Homo sapiens: one gene and its partners. The protein of the gene in region 1 interacts with the protein of each later gene in a pairwise test. Each region holds a gene or a part of one and is shown in the gene's direction. Other genes may lie near its edges. The genes, in order: PFDN2, PFDN1 and UQCRC1.

Region 1 (3,653 bases):
ATTTTCCATTTATTTTCAGACATTGGATAACTCTGGATAATGAGAGACTATTGTACATGAAACAGACTTTGTCTTCAAATTGCTTTACTCAGACTCATTTGAGAAAAGACAAACCAAACAATAAAGATTTATAGTGTGCTGCACAATCCCTTCATTATGGCAGCAGAGGAGAGACCCCTAACTAATCACGAGGTTGTAGGATTGTGGGGGTAGGGGCTGGATAAGGGAAGCTGTGGTATAGTAGGGTGGCTAAGAGCATTCTTATGCACTAGGGTCAGACCTAAGTTTGAATTTCATTTCTACTATTTACTATTTATATATGACCTCCCATGAGTTACATCTTGGCCTCCCCCATCTGTAGAAACATAACAATACCTACCTCATCACTGAATTTAGAGTATTAGGCAAGACAATGCATGCGAAGTGTTTTGCACAGTGATTAGAATATAGTGTGTGTTTAGTAAATGCTAGTTAGCTTTTGTTTTCTAGAGGAGAAAAATCCTTCAGCTCAATTCTAAAGGATGAGAGAAGTTAGTCAAGCAAAGAAGGAAGTGGAAGATTTTCTAGGTAGAGGGAATAAATGTGTTCCAAAACACTAAGGCGTGAAACTGCCTGGCATGTTTGGGATGCAGGTGGGACTTAATGTTTGAGGTGGATTACAGAACTTGAATATGGAGAAAAGGGGGTAAAAGAGGAATATAAGATGTCTCTCAGGTTTCTGTCTTTGGTGGATAATGGTGCCATAAGGAATGTAGGAAGACAGACAATTTTGGGGGAAATGTAAGTTTATTTTAGGATTTTGAGTTTAGGTTTCTTGTGGGACACCCAGGTTAAACATTCAGTAGACACTTTGATTTTTAAATCTTGAGATACAGTAAGAAATCTGAGTTGGAGATACAGATTTGAGAATTGAGTTTATGGATGATAAAGCCGTGGTTATGGATAAAAATGATCACTTTCCATAGTTTGTACAGAAAGTGAAAAAAGAAGTAGAACAAGAGTGGAACCACTGTTTTAGGGGAGCTAAAGAGAACCCCTCAAACTTCCCTCAGGAAACTGAGGAAGTGTGATAAGTGAGTTTTGAGGCTGTTCCTTGATTAACATTCTCTTGCCTTTGTTTATTCTGGAGAGAACACTGGGTAAAACATTACAAGATTTATCACTGCTGCAAATTTGAGCCACATATGTCCCTTACAAACAAGATGGAAGCAAATAACACATTGTGTTAGACACTTGTTTTACCTTCTGTTACTGACTGAGACAGGGTCTCATTCTGTTGCCCAGGCTGGAGTGCAGTGGTGCGATCACGGCTCACTGCAGCCTCAACCTCCCAAGGCTCAGGTGATCCTTCTACCTCAGCCTCCCAAGTTACTGGGACTACATGCGTGTGCCACCCTGCCCAGCTAATTTTTGTATTTCTTGTAGAGATGGAGTTTTGCCATGTTGCCCAGGCTGGTCTTGAACTCTTGGGCTCAAGCAGTCCACCTGCCTTGGCTTCCCAAAGTGCTAGGATTACAGGCATGAGCTGAGCCACCGCTCAGGCCTACCTTCTGTTATTCAATTACTGCCATTTGAAGTAGGTTGTGTTGTCCTCCATTTATAGGTGAGGACATTTTAATTTCAGAGGCTTTAGTTAACTTGCCCAAGGTCAGTAACTGGAAGAGCAGGATTTTTAAATGAGGGACTTAAGAATCAGGTATTTTTTTCACTTATGCCATGATTATGTTAGAGGTATTTGAGCAGAACCCTGAAGGAGTGGATGGATTTGAACAGGTAGCAGTGGGAATAGAAAGTAGGGAATATGATAAGAGGAGAGTAGTTGAATAAGGCCATAGAGGTCTTTGAGTGCATGCCAAAGAATTTATGACTTTTTAACATAAGCAGTGAGGAAGTCACAGAAGGATATATGTTATATTATTAATTGTTTAACTCTTATATAAAATAATACATTTATTGTCGGAACTGCAGAAAACAAAGGAAAAAGTTCAAACCAGGAAATAAATTGCCCATAATCCAACTATCCAGAGATAACTTTTCTTGCCATTTAGGAGTATATCCTTTGAGAGATTTTTTCCCCCCTCCTTTGTCTTTTTGTGTATATATGTGTGGATGGAAGGGGGAGCTTTTTTTTTTTTTTACATATTTTATAAAATTAGGATTATACTACAGTATGTACTGGTTTGTAATCTGTTTTTTAAGCCTAATAGTATATGTTGAACATTTTTCTATGTCATCTAAGTGTTAGGAAGATTAAATTAGCAGTGTGTAGGGTAGGTTTGGGGAGTCTAAAAATAGGATCATTTAGAAGACTATTGCAGTAATTCAGATAAGAATGTAATGAACATCTGAACTAGGGTTATGTCAGTGAGCCTAAGAGAAATTGCTAAACTAAGTGCAATACATTTGGCAGTTCATGGGATTATGGTATGTTCAAAGATGAACCTGGGTATGGTGGCAAGTGCCTGTAGTCCCAGCTACTCAGGAAGCTGAGACAGGAGGATCACTTGAGTCTGGGAGTTTGAAGCTATAGTGTGCTATAATTGTGCCTGTGAATAACCACTTTTCACCAGTCTGAGCAGCATAGGGAGACCCCATCTTTAAAAACAAAACAAAAGATGAAACTAAGGTTTCCTACCAGGAGGCCTAGAGTGATGTCAGTAGCAGAAATAGAAGAGATAAGATCACTTCAGCTTTGAACAACATGAGTTTAAGATATCCATGGGACATTTAGGTGGAGATGATCTGTAATAATAGCAGCTACTATTTATTGAAAACTTGTTATATGATAGATATTGTCCTAAGTTCTTGATGTAATTACTTAATCCTTACAACATTCTGTGAGGCAGGTATTATCTGTATTTTATTGGTGAAGAAACATCAGAAAAGAAGTAATTAATACTTATGCATTCTGTGAGACAGGTATTAATCTGTATTTTATTGGTGAAGAAACATTCAGAAAAGAAGTAACTTGTCATGGTCTGACGTTAAGCCATTTCTGTCAGGCACAAAAAAGCTCCTTCCTCTAACTTGTAAATGTGGGACTAGAATTTCTGAAAAGGCCTGGTTTTGCAGGCAAGTAGAATAAAGGCAATTGCTGGAACTATAGAAGTAGCTAAGAATGCCACTTGAAATAGTATAGGTTACCCTGATTTGATTATATGAATATATCAAATTATCACAATACCATGAAAATATGATTATGAATCAATAAAAAATAATTTCAAAAATAATGTAGGTAATGAAGAAGTGCTATGAATAGAATCTTAGATCCTGTGGCCATTGTGGGAGTGAAAGAGGAAGAACTTTCAGAAAGGAGAAAGAAGGAGGCTTGAGATAGGAAGGAGAACTGAAGGGACCTGGAAACCAAAGGGGAGTCGAAGATCTACATTGTATCGGGCACTTGACCTATTATCTCAGTTAGTTCTCATTGTTACCCTGTAGCAGTGATTCTCAACTGGCATTATCTTTTCCTAGGAGACATCTGGCAGTGTCTGGAGACATTTTTGGTTGTCACAAATCAAAGGGGTTGCTACTGACTTTTAGTGGGTATAGTCCAGGGATTTGTTAAACATCCTATAATGCCTGAGACAGCCCTCCTAGCAAAGAATGATTTGGCCTAACATGTCAGTAGTGACAATGTTGAGAAACCCTGC
Region 2 (3,653 bases), on another chromosome or scaffold:
AGTTTTTACTTACTTACTAACTTACTATATTGACATCTTTACATGTCAATAAAAAAAATATTTTTTTTTAAATTTCGGTTTGGTTTTTTATTTAATTAGTCATTCTTTTTTAAAAAAATTTATTTATTTTTTAGACATGGGGCATTGCTATGTTGCCTGGGCTGGACTTGAACTCTTGGATTTAAGCAATCCTCACACCTCAGCTTTCTGAGTAGCTAGGACTACAGGTGCATGCCATTATGCCTGGCTGCCCCCTTGGTTTTATCTCCTGTTTTGTATCCTATTTCTGTGCCAGTGTGGATACTTAAGGTCTCCAGGATTCAGCATAAACTCTCAGGATGAAAGCCAATTTACTGCTGTCTTACATTCCTGAATTCCCAGTTTCACTTCACTTTGGACCTTTGTGGAATCCTTCCTTTTGTGTTAGTTCAACAAAATGTTAAAAAAAAATTTTTTTTTCCTTTGTTTCTAATCAGGAGTGTTCAGGGTATCTACTCTTCATTATGCCAATAACAGAAGTCTGTAACTCACTGAGCAGTCCACAATGTGGATGTGCCATAAAGTTTTAATCACTTCCTTACTAAGGAAGTGATTAAAGTAAGAAATAAATTCAATTTAAAAAAATTTTAAAAAAAGAAGTTCAATTTATTTCTACTTGCTTCCACGCTAAAAATTACGACGTAAAAATTCAGTAACTTTCCTCACCAGTGGAGTTAGGCAAAGAAGCAAGATAGGCTCATTCTTTTTTTTTTTTTTTTGAGATGGAGTCTCGCTCTGTTGCCCAGGCTGGAGTGCAGTGGCGCGATCTCGGCTCACTGCAAACTCCACCTCCCGGGTTCACGCCATTCTCCTGAAGATAGGCTCATTCTTATGTCTTTTCTATGCTGCTTAATTTGTGAATACCCTGAAACCTAAATGCTAATAGGATACGTTTTTAGACACCCTCTAAAAATTTCCCACCCAAAGTGAACTCGTCATAAGCATTTTGTTGTTTCTGAATAGCATATGTCTAGGTGACCATACTTTGGAAATTGTGTCCAAAATGCAGCAGTGCAAGTGATCTGGGATTGTGTTTTGGGCAGGTGAACAATGGTTTTGATTCATACTGAGTTATAAGAAAGTGGAAGTTGTACCAAACTGCAGGATGATTTAGAAAACGGAGTCTGATGTTTCTCAAATAATCAAAACCGAAAGTCTCAGAATTATGTTTTCAGATGGCATAATTACAAATAAATGAGGAAGTGAAATAGCAGGTTACAAGTCCTTGAGAGTGGACAGTGCAGAGGCACGTGGCACTGATTTCCAGGTCAAAGAAGAGGCCTTTTGCAAAGCATCAACTCGAATTCAGGTTATATAATCCTGAGTATTTTAAGCATGTTATCTGCATATTATTTGTCATGAGAGAATACTTTCCCTCTTCATGGTTTATTTTTCCTTATTGGTACATTTTGAACTCCAGAATTCTTTATTTACTATTTGGCTTTCCATAAACAATCAGGCAGAATGACTATGAGATTCTCTACATTGAGCAACTGTGTACATAATATTTGCTTATGATAAGACTTATATTATCATGATAAATCCTTTCTCTTCACATAGTATCTGATAATCCAATGCCCTTTTAAACAATAAGAAAGATGTTTTCCAAAGACTTTTTTTCAGAAATCAGATGTTTCTTGGAGCCTTTTCCAGTCTTCATACAATATATCTTTGCCATTTTTTAAATTGAGGACTAAACCAAACTTTCCATAAGTTTTTGTGTTTGAATTTTTACTGTGTAACTACTCTTTGAGGTAGACATTTGCATTTACCCAACATTCATCCTTGTTAAAACTTGCGTGGCTGAGATGTCCTTAGGTTTGTAGTAGTAAGTTGGCCAGCTTCGGTGGAATCTCTCTGGCCTTTGAAGTTGGCACAGTCCAGTATAGCTACCTCAAAGGATATGTGGTCATGGAAAAACGTGTTTTTGTTGTTGAGTGTTCTTGCTTTCTAGTAATTTTATTTTCTGCTCAAGAGATTTAGTATCTGTTCAGATACTTTATTTTTAAAGGCCACATAAGTAATGACTTGACCTCTAATCTTAGCTTTGAAATTTTCCCAGACACTAATAAAGATGATGTCTGATGACCTTTTATTTGAGAATAGTACTCATTGGCCAGCTATCAGTGCTACTTAAAAATGTATATTTTACTCAAAAAATTATTTCCATGGCTAAAAGACTTTCTCAGTAAAATCACACATGTCATGACATAATTTGGTGACTCTTGCACCTTGTTTTAGAATAGTTTTTACATAACATTACTGAGACTTAGTACTGTTCAAAACAACTCTTCTCTTCAAATACAAATATGAGTTAGTTCTGAGAAAAATATTCTGTAAACCATAATCTTATCTGAAATAGCACCCATCTCTTGGATCCAGTAAGAATATTTTAGACATGAAGGGTTCTATAGTAAAAGACCTGGAATTAATCCTTGTTTTGCATGAATGTGGGCTCTCTTTCCTGTAAATATACAGTAAGGTTTTACAAAGAATCAAGTTACTACTGAAGACTAAGATCATCAGTTGGGCTGGGCTGGGCGTGGTGGCTCATGCCTGTAATCCCAGCACTTTGGGAGGCCGAGGCGGGCAGATCACGAGGTCAGGAAATCGAGACCATCCTGGCTAACATGGTGAAACCCTGTCTCTACTAAAAAATAGAAAAAATTAGCCAGGCGTGGTGGTGGGCGCCTGTAGTCCCAGCTACTCGGGAGGCTGAGGCAGGAGAATGGCATGAACCCGGGAGGTGGAGCTTGCAGTGAGCCAAGATCATGCCACTGCACTCCAGCCTGGGCAACAGAGCGAGACTCCGTCTCAAAAAAAAAAATTATCTGGGCTGGCCGCATTAGGATATAAGCTTAATAATTAGTGGAGTAAAAGAAGTTCTTCAGATTTTATTAATATGTGTGGTAAGGCTTAGTTATGAAGAAGAGGGGACAAGGCAGTTTCCTTCCAGGTGTTGGGGCATAGCTAATTGCCCTTTTTGGTCTGTTTTTACTTGTCTTATATCTATAATAACGGACTCTCTTGATAAGAACCCACCTAGGCACAATGATGTTTTTGTGGGGTTGGCAGAGGAAACTGCATGTTGCTACCTTGATGTGTTTTCTCGTTTGACTTTTTGTTAAGAGATGATGTTTAGTTCTTTGTTGCTGAACTCTGTTAGTGCAAAGAGAAGAAAAATCTTGCTTAATTAATTGCAATATTAAATTGAAATATATTTTAGCTTCCTTAGACAGTCCTGAAAGAGATTTGCATAACTGGGGTCTTCCCTTGGTTCCAGTGGAGGGGAAATATTTCAGTTCACTTACTTGGGGCTATAAAAGTTTGTTCTTCCTTTCCCTGAAGCAAGAATTGTGAACATAAAGTCATAAAACAGTTTCAGTGTTAATTTTTAAAACTTCTCCATATTTCCACCCTCATCAGTGGTAAATAATGTGCCTGATGTAAAATGGAAAAAGTTGAAAATTTCCACTTGTACATTTTGAGCTTTTCAGAGGTACTATATACACTCTGGAAATAATAATAAAAGATACTAAGGCTTATACAGTGCTTTTTGTTTGAGGAACTCATATAAACACTAATGCATTGATCCTAACACAGTGCTTGATTGT
Region 3 (3,653 bases), on another chromosome or scaffold:
GTTTCTTTTACATTTTTTTTTTTTTTTTGAGATGGAGTCTCTCTGTCACCCAGGCTGGAGTGCAGTGGCACGATCTTGGCTCACTACATCCTCTGCCTCTTGGGTTCAAGCAATTCTGCCTCAGCCTCCCAAGTAGCTAGGACTACAGGCACGTGCCACCACACCTGGCTAATTTTTGTATTTTTAGTAGAGACAGGGTTTCACTATATTGGCCAGGCTGGTCTCGAACTGCTGACCTCGTAATCCACCTGCCTTGGCCTCCCAAAGTGCTGGGATTACAGGTATAAGCCACCGCGCCCAGCCTGTGGTGCGTGTTTCACAGCAACCAGGAGGCTGTCAAGAAAATTAATATTACCTTATTGGGTGCCAAGGCAACACTGTTTGGTGTTCAGAGCTGATTAAAAACAACAACAAAAAAGATATTATAGGAACAATATTTAGTGTGATAAAATATACAGTCTAAACCAATAGTCCCTTCCTTAATGATGAAAGGATAAAATCATTGCCAGAACAAAGGCAGCGTGTAATTTTTAGAAAGGAAAAAATAAGTTGTTATTTGCAAATGATATGTTGTATGCTTAGACAAAAACAAATAATTAACTGAAAATTGAGAGTGAATTTAAGGATTTGTATGCTGGTGAGACCAGGTAAATGTGCACAGTTAGAAGTGTCCCTGTGGGTCCTTGATAGCCAATCAGGAGAGCAATGATGTGGTGTGACGAGTCATTCGGCTGCCCCTGTTTTCCAAGCATGACTGTGTCCCCAAGCACAGGGGTCCTGCTGGGGCAGCTCTCCCTGACTCCAGGATTCATAAGTCCCTGCCTGGGGCTTGTACTGAGTCACTCAGGTGGGGTGTGAGTAGGGGGCTGGGGAGTGGTTTGTTTGTAACCTTTTCTGGTGGCTTCTTGACCAGGTGGGAGTGTGGATTGATGTTGGCAGCCGTTTTGAGACTGAGAAGAATAATGGGGCAGGCTACTTTTTGGAGCATCTGGCTTTCAAGGTGAGGCTCTTAAAGTCTGTCTCCTCTGGGCTTAGGGCTGCCTGTTGTCCCTCCTGAGGATGAAGGTCAGAAAAATTAGCCTGATTATGGGCCTCAGTTGCGGGGCTGATGTCTGGCTGGCTTTCCTAAAAGGAGCCACATGAGCTTAACCTCTCCTGAGTGGGCACGTATCTGATGAGCCCCTGCCTGAGGCCCTCAGAGCCAAGAGGACCCAAGGAACCATAGGAGCCCCACTTTTCACCAGAGAAGCCAGGCCTGTGGAACACACGTAGATATGCACATGCATTTTAACAAACCCACAGACATGGGCATGCATGCTTGCTTATGAAATGTTCTTCTCTGGTGGAATATCTAGGCATCCCTTGGTTGTAAAGACCCATGTTTTTTAAAGGAATGAAAAACATGGAGAAGGATTATGGGGTGGGCAGGGCCATGGAGCCATAGTAGGCAACCTAGCCAGCTGCAATGTCACAGGTATGTGTGCAGAATTAACGTGTGTGTGCACACCAAGAGATAGCACCACTGTTCTCCACACACAGGACTAGGATTGGGTCCCACAGAGGCCACTAGCATGTATTCACAAACATACAGTCATGGGAATGGCATGGGAGGAGTGGGTTCTATCACTTGAACACAGGTGTGGGCTTACCTGACCATGGCTGTCAATAAGGAGGGGGGAGGTGTACTGGTAATGATCCCCACAGCTTGTTGGTAAGCTGTTACAGGAGCTTTAGGCAACACTTGCTCTGGCCATGCCCTTCAGTCCTGGCCCTGGCTATCTCTGTTCTGTTGGCGCATGATGCCATGGTTTTGGTCACCTCAAGGCCTGCTTAGTGCTTGGTAAACAGACTCTGGGATCTGTGTCCCCAGAGTCTATGCTGAGGGAGGTACCTGTGGACCAGTGGTCCTGCTGGGTGTTTAGCCTCTGAGGACAGGGTTCTTGGGTTCCTGTGTAGCTCCTGATTGTTCTGGTTGATATCTGGTTCCAGGGAACAAAGAATCGGCCTGGCAGTGCCCTGGAGAAGGAGGTGGAGAGCATGGGGGCCCATCTTAATGCCTACAGCACCCGGGAGCACACAGCTTACTACATCAAGGCGCTGTCCAAGGATCTGCCGAAAGGTAACACCTGGAGGAAGAGGCGGGGACAGAGGGCAGGGAAGCAGAGGACAGCTACCTAGGAGCCCCTGGCTGACCACAGAATCATATTACCCTTAGCGTATGGCTTTGCAGCTGGGCAACTAGGGGTGGGCAGCAGGAGATGCCAGGCCTGGGGATTTTGTGCTGTCGTTGGTCTGCAGTGGTCCACCTGGCACCTAAACATGTCCTCCTTGCATCTAGCTGTGGAGCTCCTGGGTGACATTGTGCAGAACTGTAGTCTGGAAGACTCACAGATTGAGAAGGAACGTGATGTGATCCTGCGGGAGATGCAGGAGAATGATGCATCTATGCGAGATGTGGTCTTTAACTACCTGCATGCCACAGCATTCCAGGGCACACCTCTAGCCCAGGCTGTGGAGGGGCCCAGTGAGAATGTCAGGTGAGAGTTGGCTGGCCTTGTGGGGGGATGCTTGCTCCATTCTGGCCTGGCCAGACCCTTTCCAGGTCACATTTTTAGTTGGCTAGCTGTCGGGGTTATTTTCCTGAGTTATGCAACTGGAGACAGTTTCTGTATCCATGTGGTCCAGTGAGTCTTTTTTAATGGCTTTGTGGGCTTCACTTGAATTTTGGGCTTTGTTTTAAGGTATGTTTTGGTGCATGTCCTGACAGTCCAAGGGCGAAGTGTCTGGGTGTCCCCTCCATGTGGTCTCTTGTCTCCTTTGTGGATGGCTCCGGGAGCTTTGATGCTGCCCTTTTGAGAGTCCCACAGTGTTGGCTCACGCCTTCTCAGAGAAGACTATGAGCCTGTCCTGAAGTCAGGCATGAGGCAAGGGCAGACAAGGGTTGCCCTCTGGGCCCTGGAGGGGTGGGTGGCAGAGACAGGGGAAGGGGGTTGGGGAGTGTGCTAGGGCCCACTCTTCGGAGAAACCATGCCTCTCCTAGTCTGCCTCCTCAGTCCCATTCATGCATGTACCCCAACTCACTCCAGTGTGGTAGAGGTGTTGACACACTGACCATATGTCTTGTAGGAAGCTGTCTCGTGCAGACTTGACCGAGTACCTCAGCACACATTACAAGGCCCCTCGAATGGTGCTGGCAGCAGCTGGAGGTGAGTGATGGAATCACTGAAGTCCTGGGTAGTGGGGTCCCAGCCTTGGTTATCAAAGCCGAGGTCCTGGTTCCCACCATAGGGGACCTTTCACCCCAGGGGACTCTGCTCCCACCCTAACCTTGAGGGGAATGACCTTCCTCCTGTGCTCTCTGAGGTGGGATAGGATTCTACCCTGCCGCCACCACTGGGACTGGTTACACAGGATGCTGTCCCTCTGGTACAGGTCTGTCTTAGCCCCACCTGGTTCTAGGATACTGAGTTCATGGGCTGGTAGGGGATGTAAGCTCCTGGCCTTGTTCCTTGTGGCCTTGCCCTTGGGAGAGCCAGCCATTAGTTGTGTGTTGATGCATGCCTGATAACAAACCAAGAAGTGCCTTGAAAGGAAGGCACAGAAGGGTGGGGAAGATTTCACTGGGGACTCAGAGTTGGAGTTTGGGGGAGGGG

What was found.
Region 2: the proteins of PFDN2 (region 1) and PFDN1 interact in binary tests that used the Homo sapiens proteins (3 or more experiments, as listed by UniProt).
Region 3: the proteins of PFDN2 (region 1) and UQCRC1 interact in binary tests that used the Homo sapiens proteins (3 or more experiments, as listed by UniProt).

Annotation. Positions count from the first base shown.
Region 1 is NC_000001.11:161,111,386-161,115,038, reverse strand, and holds part of PFDN2 (prefoldin subunit 2), read left to right. Parts: intron 1-3,653. UniProt on the Homo sapiens protein: Binds specifically to cytosolic chaperonin (c-CPN) and transfers target proteins to it. Binds to nascent polypeptide chain and promotes folding in an environment in which there are many competing pathways for nonnative proteins.
Region 2 is NC_000005.10:140,282,453-140,286,105, reverse strand, and holds part of PFDN1 (prefoldin subunit 1), read left to right. Parts: intron 1-3,653. UniProt on the Homo sapiens protein: Binds specifically to cytosolic chaperonin (c-CPN) and transfers target proteins to it. Binds to nascent polypeptide chain and promotes folding in an environment in which there are many competing pathways for nonnative proteins.
Region 3 is NC_000003.12:48,603,117-48,606,769, reverse strand, and holds part of UQCRC1 (cytochrome b-c1 complex subunit 1, mitochondrial precursor), read left to right. Parts: intron 1-913; coding exon 914-1,000; intron 1,001-1,619; exon of another isoform or gene 1,620-1,850; intron 1,851-1,989; coding exon 1,990-2,119; intron 2,120-2,338; coding exon 2,339-2,537; intron 2,538-3,126; coding exon 3,127-3,206; intron 3,207-3,653. UniProt on the Homo sapiens protein: Component of the ubiquinol-cytochrome c oxidoreductase, a multisubunit transmembrane complex that is part of the mitochondrial electron transport chain which drives oxidative phosphorylation.